2 separate regions of the Homo sapiens genome follow, and region 2 is linked to region 1. The links come from fine-mapping of genetic effects on gene expression. Tissue or cell type: testis. Region 1 holds a variant in brackets; the other region holds the start of a gene. All regions are shown on one strand. Distances are from middle to middle.

The links. PIP is the estimated chance that this variant, and not a neighbour inherited with it, causes the effect.
Region 2: EPB41L4A starts here. The variant in region 1 is fine-mapped to the expression of EPB41L4A in testis (GTEx, PIP above 0.99).

Annotation. Positions count from the first base shown.
Region 1 is chr5:112,298,925-112,304,075 of GRCh38, forward strand. The region is part of intron 2 of EPB41L4A (erythrocyte membrane protein band 4.1 like 4A); the gene reads right to left. Among named protein-coding and RNA genes, the nearest start is that of EPB41L4A, 120 kb to the right of the region's middle. The variant A/G (reference allele first, on the strand shown) is at 2,804.
Region 2 is chr5:112,416,739-112,421,889 of GRCh38, forward strand. EPB41L4A (erythrocyte membrane protein band 4.1 like 4A) reads right to left here and starts at 2,539. Exons shown (of 23, transcript NM_022140.5): 1 at 2,203-2,539. The coding sequence starts at 2,301. It overlaps EPB41L4A-DT (EPB41L4A divergent transcript), which reads left to right and starts at 2,845. Exons shown (of 1, transcript NR_027706.1): 1 at 2,845-4,240. RefSeq lists a silencer at 3,204-3,293.

The DNA of each region.
Region 1 (5,151 bases):
TATGCACGTAAATGTGTTCATAGTAGCCTTGAATGATCTTTTGTATTTCTGTGGTGTCAGTTGTAATATCCCCCATTTCATTTCTAATTGAGCTTATTTGGATCTTCCCTCTTCTTTTCTTGGTTAATCTTGCTAATGGTCTATCAATTTTATTTATCTTTTCAAAGAACCAGCTGTTTGTTTCATTTATCTTTTGCATTTCTTTTTGTTTCAATTTCATTTAGTTCTGCTCTGACCTTGGTTATTTCCTTCATTCTGTTGGGTTTGGTTTGGTTTGTTCTTGTTTCTCTAGTACCTTGAGGTGTGACCATAGATTGTCTAGTTGTGCTCTTTCAGACTTTTTGATACAGGCATTTAAGGCTATGAACTTTCCTCTTAGCACTGCCTTTGCTGTATCCTAGAGGTTTTGATAGTTGTGTCACTATTATCATTCAGTTTGAAGAATTTTTTCCACTATGGTCTGAGAGAGTACTTGATATAATTTCAGTTTTCTTAAATTTATTCAGACTTGTTTTGTGGCCTATCATATGGTCTATTTTGGAGAAAGTTCCATGCACTGATGAATAAAATGTATATTCTGAAGTTGTTGGGTAGAATGTTCTGTAAATGGCCAGGCGTGGTGGCTCCCGCCTGTAATCCCAGCACCAAGGCAGGTAGATCACCTGAGTTCAGGAGTTTGAGACCAGCCTGGCCAACATGGTGAAACCCCATCTCTATTAAGGAATATTATGTAAATATCTGTTAAGTCCATTTGTTCTGGAGTATAGCTTAAATCCATTGTTTCTTTGCTGACTTCCTATCTTGATGACCTGTCTAGTGCTGTCAGTGCAGTATTGAAGTCCCCCACTATTACTGTGTTGCTCTCTATCTCATTACTTAAGTCTAGTAGTAATTGTTTTACAAATTTGGGAACTCCCGTGTTAAGTGCATATATATTTGGGACTGTGATATTTTCCTGTTGCACAAGGGCTTTTATCATTATATAATGTCCTACTTTGTCTTTTTTAACTACTCTTAAAGTTTGTTTTGACTGACATATGCCTGCTTGTTTTTGGTGTCTATTTGCATGGAATATCTTTTTCCATCCCTTTATCTCAAGTTTATGTGAGTCCTTATATGTTAGGTGAGTCTCTTGAAGGCAGCAGATACCTGGTTGGTGAATTCTTATCCATTCTGCAATTCTGTATCTTTTAAGTGGAGCATTTAGGCTATTTACATTCAACATTAGTATTTAGATATGAGGTACTATTCCATTCATTGTGCTATTTGTTGCCTGTATACCTTGTTTTTTCTTAATTATATTTTTGTTTTATAGGTCCTGTGAGACTTATGCTTTAAGGAAGTTCTGTTACTGATGTGTTTTCAGGATTTGTTTCAAGATTTGGAGCTCCTTTTAGCAGTTCTTATAGTGCTGTCTTAGGACTGGCAAATTCTCTCAGCATTTGTTTACCTGAAAAAGACTATCTTTTCTTCATTTATGAAGCTTAGTTTTGCTGGAGACAAAATTCTTGGCTGATAATTGTTTTGTTTAAGGAGGCTGCAGATAGGGACCCAATCCCTTCTACCTTGTAGGGTTTCTGCTGAGAAATCTGCTGTTAATCTGATAGGTTTTCCTTTATAGATTACCTAATGCTTTTGCCTCACAGCTACTAAGATTCTTTCCCTCATCTTAACTTTAGCTAACCTGATGACAATGTGCCTAGGTAATGATCTTTTTGCAATTTGCCAGGTGTTCTTTGAGCTCCTTCTATTTGGATGTTTAGGTCTTTAGCAAGGCTGGGGAAGCTGTACTAGATTATTCCCCCAAATATGTTTTCCAAACTTTTAGATTCCTCTTCCTCCTCAGGAATGCCAATTATTCTTAGATTTGGTCACTTAATGTAATCTCACATTTCTTGGAGGTTTTGTTCATTTTTTTAATGCTTTTTTCTTAGTCTTTGTTGGACTGGGTTAATTTGATAACCTTATCTTCGAGATCTGAAGTTCTTTATTCTGCTTGTTCGAGTCTTACTGCTGAGAATTTCAAGAACATTTTGCATTTCTCTAAGTGTGTCCTTTATTTTCTGAAGTTGTGATTGTTTTTTATTTATGCTATCTATTTCACTGAAGATTCCTCCCCTCGTTCCTTGTATCATTTTTTTTGATTTCCTTAAATTGGACTTCACCTTTCTCTGGTGCCTCCTTAATTGGTTTAATAATCAATCTTCTAAATGCTTTTTCAGGTCAATCAGGGACTTTTTCTCGGTTTAGATCCACTGCTGATGAGAGAGTATGATTTTTTGGGTGGTGTTGAAGAACATTCTTTTATCATATTACCAGAATTGTTTTTCTGGTTCCTTCTCCTTTGAGTAAACTATGTTAGATGGAAGATCTGGAACTTAAGGCTGCTGTTCAGATTCTTTTGTCCCATGGGGTGTTCCCGTGATGTAGCACTCTCCCCCTTTTCCTAGGAATGTGGCTTCCTGAGAGCTGAGATGCAGTGACTGTTATTTCCTTCTGGATCTAGCCACCCAGCAGGGCTACCAGACTCCAGGCTGGTACTAGGGGTTGTCTGCACAGAGTCCTGTGATGTGAACCATCTTCATGTCTCTCAGCCATGGATACCAGCACAGTATTTGCAGTGTCTCTGGGTTCCTGCAGGAGCAATCTGCTTCCTTCAAAGGGTCTGTGGATTCTCTCAGCTTTCTTGGTATATTTCTGCAGTAGTTCTGGAGCAAAATTTCACAATGCAAGTCTCTACACACTGCACGATCCGTCCGAGTGGGAACTGCAATCTAGTCCTGCCCCCTGTCTGTCAATTTCC[A/G]TAGAAAATATGTTTAATAATTATTAAAATGCATAGTATTTTGCTGTTTTAATTAATTGTATAGTGACAACCATGGTAATAACAACTACTTTTAGGGCTCAACAACAATTAGAGCCTTAACATCTTAGGAAATAAACTTTTAAAATTCCAATTTATATGTATATTATGGATATATGTTTTTTATTAATAAAAATATAATAACATTTTAGGGAGAAAGTAGAATAGGAATACAAGTTTAACGACATAAAAGGAATAAATAAATGTTTCTGATTTTTAAAAAAGAGCTTGTTCATAAATTTTTATAAAGGTAGATGAAGAGTACAAAATTGCTATGAAATATAAATTCATAGGATACATTTAAAAGGAATATGACAATTTGATTTTACAATGTCAGTATTTATGATAAACCAAAGATCTGGATCTACTAAAACTTACAAAATTTCAATTCTCAACCTAAAATTACACACGAGTACATGGTTTTTTAAAAAAATTCATAGACCAGGTATGGTGGCTCACACCTATAATCCTAGCACTTTGGGAGGCTGAGGCAGGAGGATCACTAGAGCTCAGGAGTTTGAAACCAGCCTAAGCAACATAGTGTGACCTCATCTCTAAAAGAAAAAAAAATCTTGAAAATCACTGATCTCAGAAACATTTTTTAAAAAGAGCAGATTTGGAGGGGAAGATGGCTTCAGTTTTGAATATGTTACCTTTGAGATACATGAGAGGCATCCGAGTAGTGAACAACAGCTAAAACATTATGTGGACCACACATGTTAAAGCACTAGTCTGTGTATTTTTTATAGATTCCTTCAATCATCACTACCACCCTATGAAGCTGGTACTATTACTATCTTCACTTTATAAACAGAGGAACTGAAGTATAGAAAAGTTAGGGAGACTCACTCAATGCCACACAGCTCTCCAGGTAGACTGTGGTTTGAACCCATACAGTCTGAATCCAGATTTTGAATTTTAACACAGTGTAGTCCCTCCTGAAACATCTGGGTTGAAGATAGGAATCTGAGGCTCAGTCTTTCAATATAATTTAAACCATGGAACAGTTACCAAGGAAAAGTAACACACATTCGTCAGCAGGAAACTTAGACCTTCGGTGCTATGGGGCCCCCTATAGATGCTTCCGGCTTCCAGGCCGTGGACTCTTGAAAAGCCACCTGCCATCATTGTTTCCCAGATACCCTTCATGTGTTGTTGTCAGCCCTCCCAGGATACTGTGCTTCTCATGATGCTCTTCATAAAGTCAAAGGGTTACCTAAGAGGAACTTTCTGCTTCTTGATCTTTCCCCTCTGTTCCTCCAACAGTTGCTTGAAGACATCTCACATAGTAAGTTTCATTCTGTAATAATCCAGCATGACAATCTTCCTTTCTTTGCAACAGGACTCACATTATCACTTATACATATTTTATCAGTCATTATAGGTACTTTCCAGAACATATAATCACAGAATGTGAAACTTTACACGTTACAAAATACAGCATCAGGATGAAAGGAAGAGGGGCCACTACTGACGGCAGAGAGGACACACTTAAGCATGCCTGCTAGAGCTCAATGGATGAGGATTTTTGTTCAATACTCAGAGTACTCGGGGGCAGGGAAGAGAATACAAATATTAACACATACACAGCTTAGTTTAGATGGTTAAGGAAATTATCTCAGAGGTAAACAGTACTAGCAAAGGTAGCACTAAATGTGTGGGCCTGAACAGAGTTAGAGCCTAAGAGAACTAAGGACAAAATCCTGGTGAACACCAACATTTTATGGAACAGGCAGTGGAATCACAATCGTAGAGAAGACTGAACAGGAATAACTAGAGAAAACATGAAGAGAGAGAAACAAAAAGAATATAGTGCCAGAAGAACAAAATGAGAAGATTTCAAGAATGGGCAAGTTGTTAGTGTCAAAGCAAAAGAAAGGTCAAGTAAGACAAGGACTGACAGAGTCTCTTGGATTTAGCAACTGGCAAGGCAGGGCCAGTTTCAGTGATGTGATCGGGAAAAAAGCTGCATGGTGATATGTTTAGGAAACAATGGGATTTCAGAAGTGAATGTAAGAAACTTAGACAAGGTTTTCTGAAGTTTACGCGTGATGCAGAAGGAGCCAAAGACAGCAGCAGATAAGGGAGGGCAAAGGAGGAGGGGAACGGGAGGTTCTAAATGGGAAAGACTTGAACACACCCAAACACTGACTGGAAAGAGGGAGCAGGTAGGGTACAGAGACACAAAACAGAAAAAGCAAGGTGGTAAGATCCAGCTCACAGACACTGGTGACAGGAAAGGAAGGGTATGAAGCAACTAAGTGTGTTTGGGGGTGGGGTGGTCAAGAAAG
Region 2 (5,151 bases), 120 kb after region 1:
ATAATACAGGAAGGTTAGGAAAAAGTTTTTTAAAATGTCAAGTATGTACAGAACATAAACATGTTCATCCAATGTTTGAATACCTCTACATGCAAGTTTTTTTATACACACCATTTATAAATATGCAAATATATTTAATTTAGTACACGCCAAGGGTGGGTAGGTGTTTAACACATACACTTTTAAGGTAGCATAGAAGATAATGTGATTAGCTTTAGCAGACAACATCTGTGTTACACACATGGCCATCAAAATAATTGTGGCATGCTTTTGTGACAAGGACAGAGGCCAAGCCTGTTGTTAAATGATTATTTCCAACAACAGCCTGCTTAAATTATTGTTTAGTTATATGGCCCATATCCAAAGTAACAGTATTACATAGTTGCTGTTGCCTTTGAATCACTCACCAATTTTCAGCCCATTTGTAAAACAAGATAAGCACCACTGGATTATAAAAAATAATTATGGATCAGGATTTTTGATTCATGTTTCTTTGACAAAATTATTCCATTTGATCCCAAGTCCTGGCTGCTCTCTTGACAGAATAATGTACACGCTCTACAGCTGATAGGCATGACTTTGATGATTAAATAGGAAGCTCACATTCCAGATGACTTTAGACTCCAGATAATTTAGACTTTGCACTTCAAAAAGATTTCTTTACTGTCTTAGTATCTGATCATCAGTTACCTTTTTCTAATTGTTTCTATCTCGACACAAGAATCTATATATTATCTACAATTTAGGATGTTTTTGTGATTTTTGCCTATTTTATTCATACAGTACACCAAAGAATGTTACATCATCTTGTAAGTTACAATATTTTCCTGATTTCATTGGGCGGGTGAGAGGAGAAATATTTTGGAACATAAAGAAAAGTTAAAAATACAAAATGTACACCCTCCCCGAAAAGAGTCTATTTTATTGGTCTTGAAAGGAAATACCGAATGAGAATCGAACTGAATTTTGCTCAGTATAATTACTGGGGAAACAATATTCAAAACAACCTCCTAAAGGAAAGGGTTAACAATCTTGTAGCTTTAACTGATTATTTTTGCTCCTTTCTCCCGCAAAAGAATTACACCTATGAAACTGGAATTCTGTACACTAAGAATGGCAACATTAACGCTGAAACTTTTAGCCAGGAATAGTTATCCTAGTGTGCATAAAACTATGTAAAAACTGATTCACAAAAGGAAATGCCCAGGGCCTACCCCATTATGATTAACTTCTGAGATGAAGCGACTAAGAGAGGATACTTGGCAGCCTGAACTCGATTTCTCAGAAAGCCAGCTCTATCAGAGCGGGGGCGGGGGGGCGGTTTCCCTTCACCAGACTCAGCTGTTGCCTTATCTAAAATGCCTTAGCGATCTAAAACTGAAAGAGAAAGATAAACAAAACAACAAAACGCTCCGGATTTAGATCTCCTTTAGGTAGTTAACACTGTTGCAAAAGCAAAACAAGCACGCAGGCGCGTCGGTCAGGTTGTCACTACAAACATACGTACCTTCTCATCCAATGTAAGGAAGAGGATCTCTGCGAGCTCTGCTGCCTTTTTGTTTGGGCTCTCTAGGTTAATGTAGTGATTGCATTTTAATGACCCACAAACAGGAGCAAAGTTATTACTGGGTCGCTTTGAGAGATGTTTACTTAAATGTGAGGATAAACCCAGGTCGCTGTAGAAAGGGAAAATATTTTCCGTCCAAACGTAGCATTACCCAACTACGAACCCACGCAAAACAATCACAATGACCCATTAATGCGTTTCAACGAGTGAACTAGTTCACTTCCCTAATAACACTGTCAAGGAAAACGCCTTCAACAAAGTCGAGGGAAACCATGCCTTCCACACTGGTGGGACGCAGCTGGTATAACCCATTCTGCCCCTCTTTGAGAGCTGCGGGGCACCCAGAGGCTTTTGGAGAAAACCGGTTTGGGGAAGAGTTTTGGGGTGCTGCTGGGAGCCGGTGTGCTGAGTAAACTTAGAAACGTCAAACTCAACTTTGCTTTATGAAGGAACTCAAAGTTAACTCACCCTGGTACGTCCACCCTCTCCCTGCGCGCAGGGGACAGCGGCCTCTCCTCCCCACCGCGCAGAGTCGCGGCCGCCGCCCTCGACCCACCGGTGACAGCCCTCAAAGCGATGGACCCCCGCACCCGCCCTGCCGCCAACCCCCGGAACGCGCTCCGGGCCGCACCCACCTTGATGCCCTGCTGCTGGGTGGTAAGGGTTAACTTGGATTCATCCAGGAGCAAAACTTCGCAGTAAAATTCTTCCGGAACAGCGCAGAAACAGCCCATGTCGGTTGTGGTCGTCTCCAGCCAGGAGAGAAAGCTACCACCGAGGCGCCCAGCCGCCCCCTCCACTCAAGCGCGATGCATTAATTTATTGTCCGCGCCGTGGCGAGGGTGAGACGAGCAGCTCCCGGCGGGGTCCGGGGACCGGCCGCCGAACCGCCCGGCGGGGCGGGAGCGAGAAAGGCGGAAAAGCCCGGGAGAGTCAGCGCCCGGGAGCCGCCGGGGAAGCGCCGGCGGAACTGGGCGCGGAGGGCGGTGGCGCGTCCCCGCGCATCCTGCGGCTCGAGCTCCTCCGAAGGCGGGGGCGCGGGGCCCCTCCCGCAGTCCTGGGGACGACAAAAGTCTCCTGGCACTGGGGGCAAGAGACCAGAAAAAGGAGTGATGGGAATTCGAGGCTCTCCCCGGCCTTGGAAAACCCTGGAAGCGCTGCACCTCCCTCCTGCCGCACGGATTTGAGCGCGGCCCCGACGTCCTGGCGTCCGATCGGCCTGCGGAGTCCCCCGCGGGCGCGCACTTCCAGCCGCGACCCCGCCCCGCAGCCCCGGGTCAGATCCGCCGAGTATGAAGCGCTCGGCTTTTCTTTTGTGTGAGGAGCACCCACGACGCCCCGACCATGGGCGCAGGGGCAGAGGCGAAGGTCGTCGCTCCGTCCGCTACCCCGTCCCCCAGCCGCAAGCGCCGAGGAGCCGGAAGAGAGGCGGAAAGGGCAGCAGGCTCCTTACCCAGACCAGCGAGGGGAGGTCAGCTCGTCGCGGGGTGTGGCTCCCGTCCGGGGACTCCCGAGCTCATTACGGGTGGCCGTGTGTAGCCAAGTTCAAGCTCTCCCTCCGGGAATGCCTGCCGCGGCGGCGGAATACGGCTTCTTCAGGACATTCAGCAAAGCGGGGAGGCGGGGACCTGCGGGCGGAGGAGCGACGCCCCAGCTGGGAACGCGGCGGACGGGCGAGCGGGGGGTGCGCCCTGGGCGCGCCAGGCCGCAGAGGCTCCGGGGAAAGTTCTCTTGGCCGCGCGAGTGGTGGCGCCCCGGGCGGGAGCAGCCCAGGTGCATGTGGGCCCGGTCCAGGCGTCTGCAAAAAGCCCTGGAACGAAGCGGACCCCCCAGTCCAGCGCTGGCCGCGGCAGGGGAGCCCCTTCTGGGCGGGGTATCAGCTGGGGGCGGAGGGCGGGGCAGAGACCGTGGTCCCAGCGGCGAGGTGCCGGCGAGTCCACGCTGCCAAGCCGCACACTGCGCCCAAGCCGCGGGGCAGTCCAGCGCTCGCTGCGTCCTTCCCCCGAGAGACCTGGAGGCTGGGTGGGGAGAAGAGGACGCGGTGCTGCTCGGACCCCACGGTTCGGCGGTCCCAATCCCACGCCCTCCGCGCGGTCGGCCGCGTCCAGGACTGAGGGGCACAATAGCTCTGAAGCTGCAGTGACCCCTGGTGGGTCCCGATGTCCGTGCACAGGCAGCCGAGGTTGAGCTGCGGACGACACTGAGCCCCGCTGGGCTTCGGAGCAGGTGCAATCTGTGCTCTCCAGCTGGGAACCAGCAGCGAGTTAATGCGAGTCGCAGTTAGGGGAGACACGAGGGGAGGTGTCACAGAAAAAAAACTCTATATTGAGTTTTAGAGTTAGAGCTTTGGCATCAGACGTAGTTTTGAGTTGACTATTCTACTGCTTGTTAGCTGGGTAGCCAAAGCTCAAAAAAAATTGCTTAAAACCTAGGACGTTAGCCCTTAAAACAAAACCAGGCTTCCGTAGCACAGTAGAAATGAAATGAACAATTGGCGACTTTTGATGGAGTTTCCTCTCATAGTGATTTGCCACAAAGGACCTTCTGTAGGAAGCCTCGGCCTTCCCTGCTATTGTGACCCCATCCAAACACAGGATCAGCATAACCGCCAAAGTGCAATATAAATTTCTGAACTTTACCTAGGCTATGAATAAAACTATTTTATCTTCTGAATTTTCTGTGAAATTGACTCAGGTTTTGAATTTCTGATCAAATTTCGTGTCCAGCTTTGTTTTATTGTCAAAGTCTTGCCTGCCTTATGAGGTGACACCTTATTATGCTAGATTTTAGCATTTCTGCTTGTAGAGGCTTTTCTTTTCTGTAATACAGTATTCCTGACAGGAGTTACCAAATGTGATTGAAAGATGGCTTAACATTTTCATTCTTTACCTCCATATCCAACCGAGACACTTGAGGCTGCAAAAACAAAAGGTTCAAGCAATCATCTGTTCCCAGTTTTTTTGAGTTTTGCTCTCACCTGTTTTTTGGCCCTTTGATTTGGTTTTTTTGCTTTCTGATTTTTGGTTTTGCTGTTGTTTGTTTTTGTTTTTTTACCTCCAGTGGCAGTGAGAAGGCTGAGGGTTTTGGATGGGCAGGGATTCTGTTCCCAGCTCCTCATAAGGTAAGTTACAAAGCCATAAGGTCCCATACATATGACACTCTTTCCTGAGTGAAGCATTTTCTTTTCCATTTCTTTATCGGAGACTGGAGAAAAGAACATTTAAAATCTATTTAACACAAAATTAGAGATTACTAGTGACAAGAGGATTCCACAGAGTTTCTAAGGATAGCTTTATTGCATATAATTTACATACAGTTCACTGCATAATTTTTAAGTGTACAATTTGATAAGTTTTGACATAAGTGTGCACCCATGAACCCACCACCATAATCAAGCTAGTACACATATTCATCCCTCCCTAAGGTTTCCTCCTGCACTTTGTCATCTTTCTTTTTTTTTTTTTTTTTTTTGAGACAGAGTCGCGCTCTATCAGAGTGCAGTGGCGCGATCTCGGCTCACTACAACCTCCACCTGCCGGGTTGGAGCAATTCTCCTGCCTCAGCCTCCCAAGTAGCTGGGACTA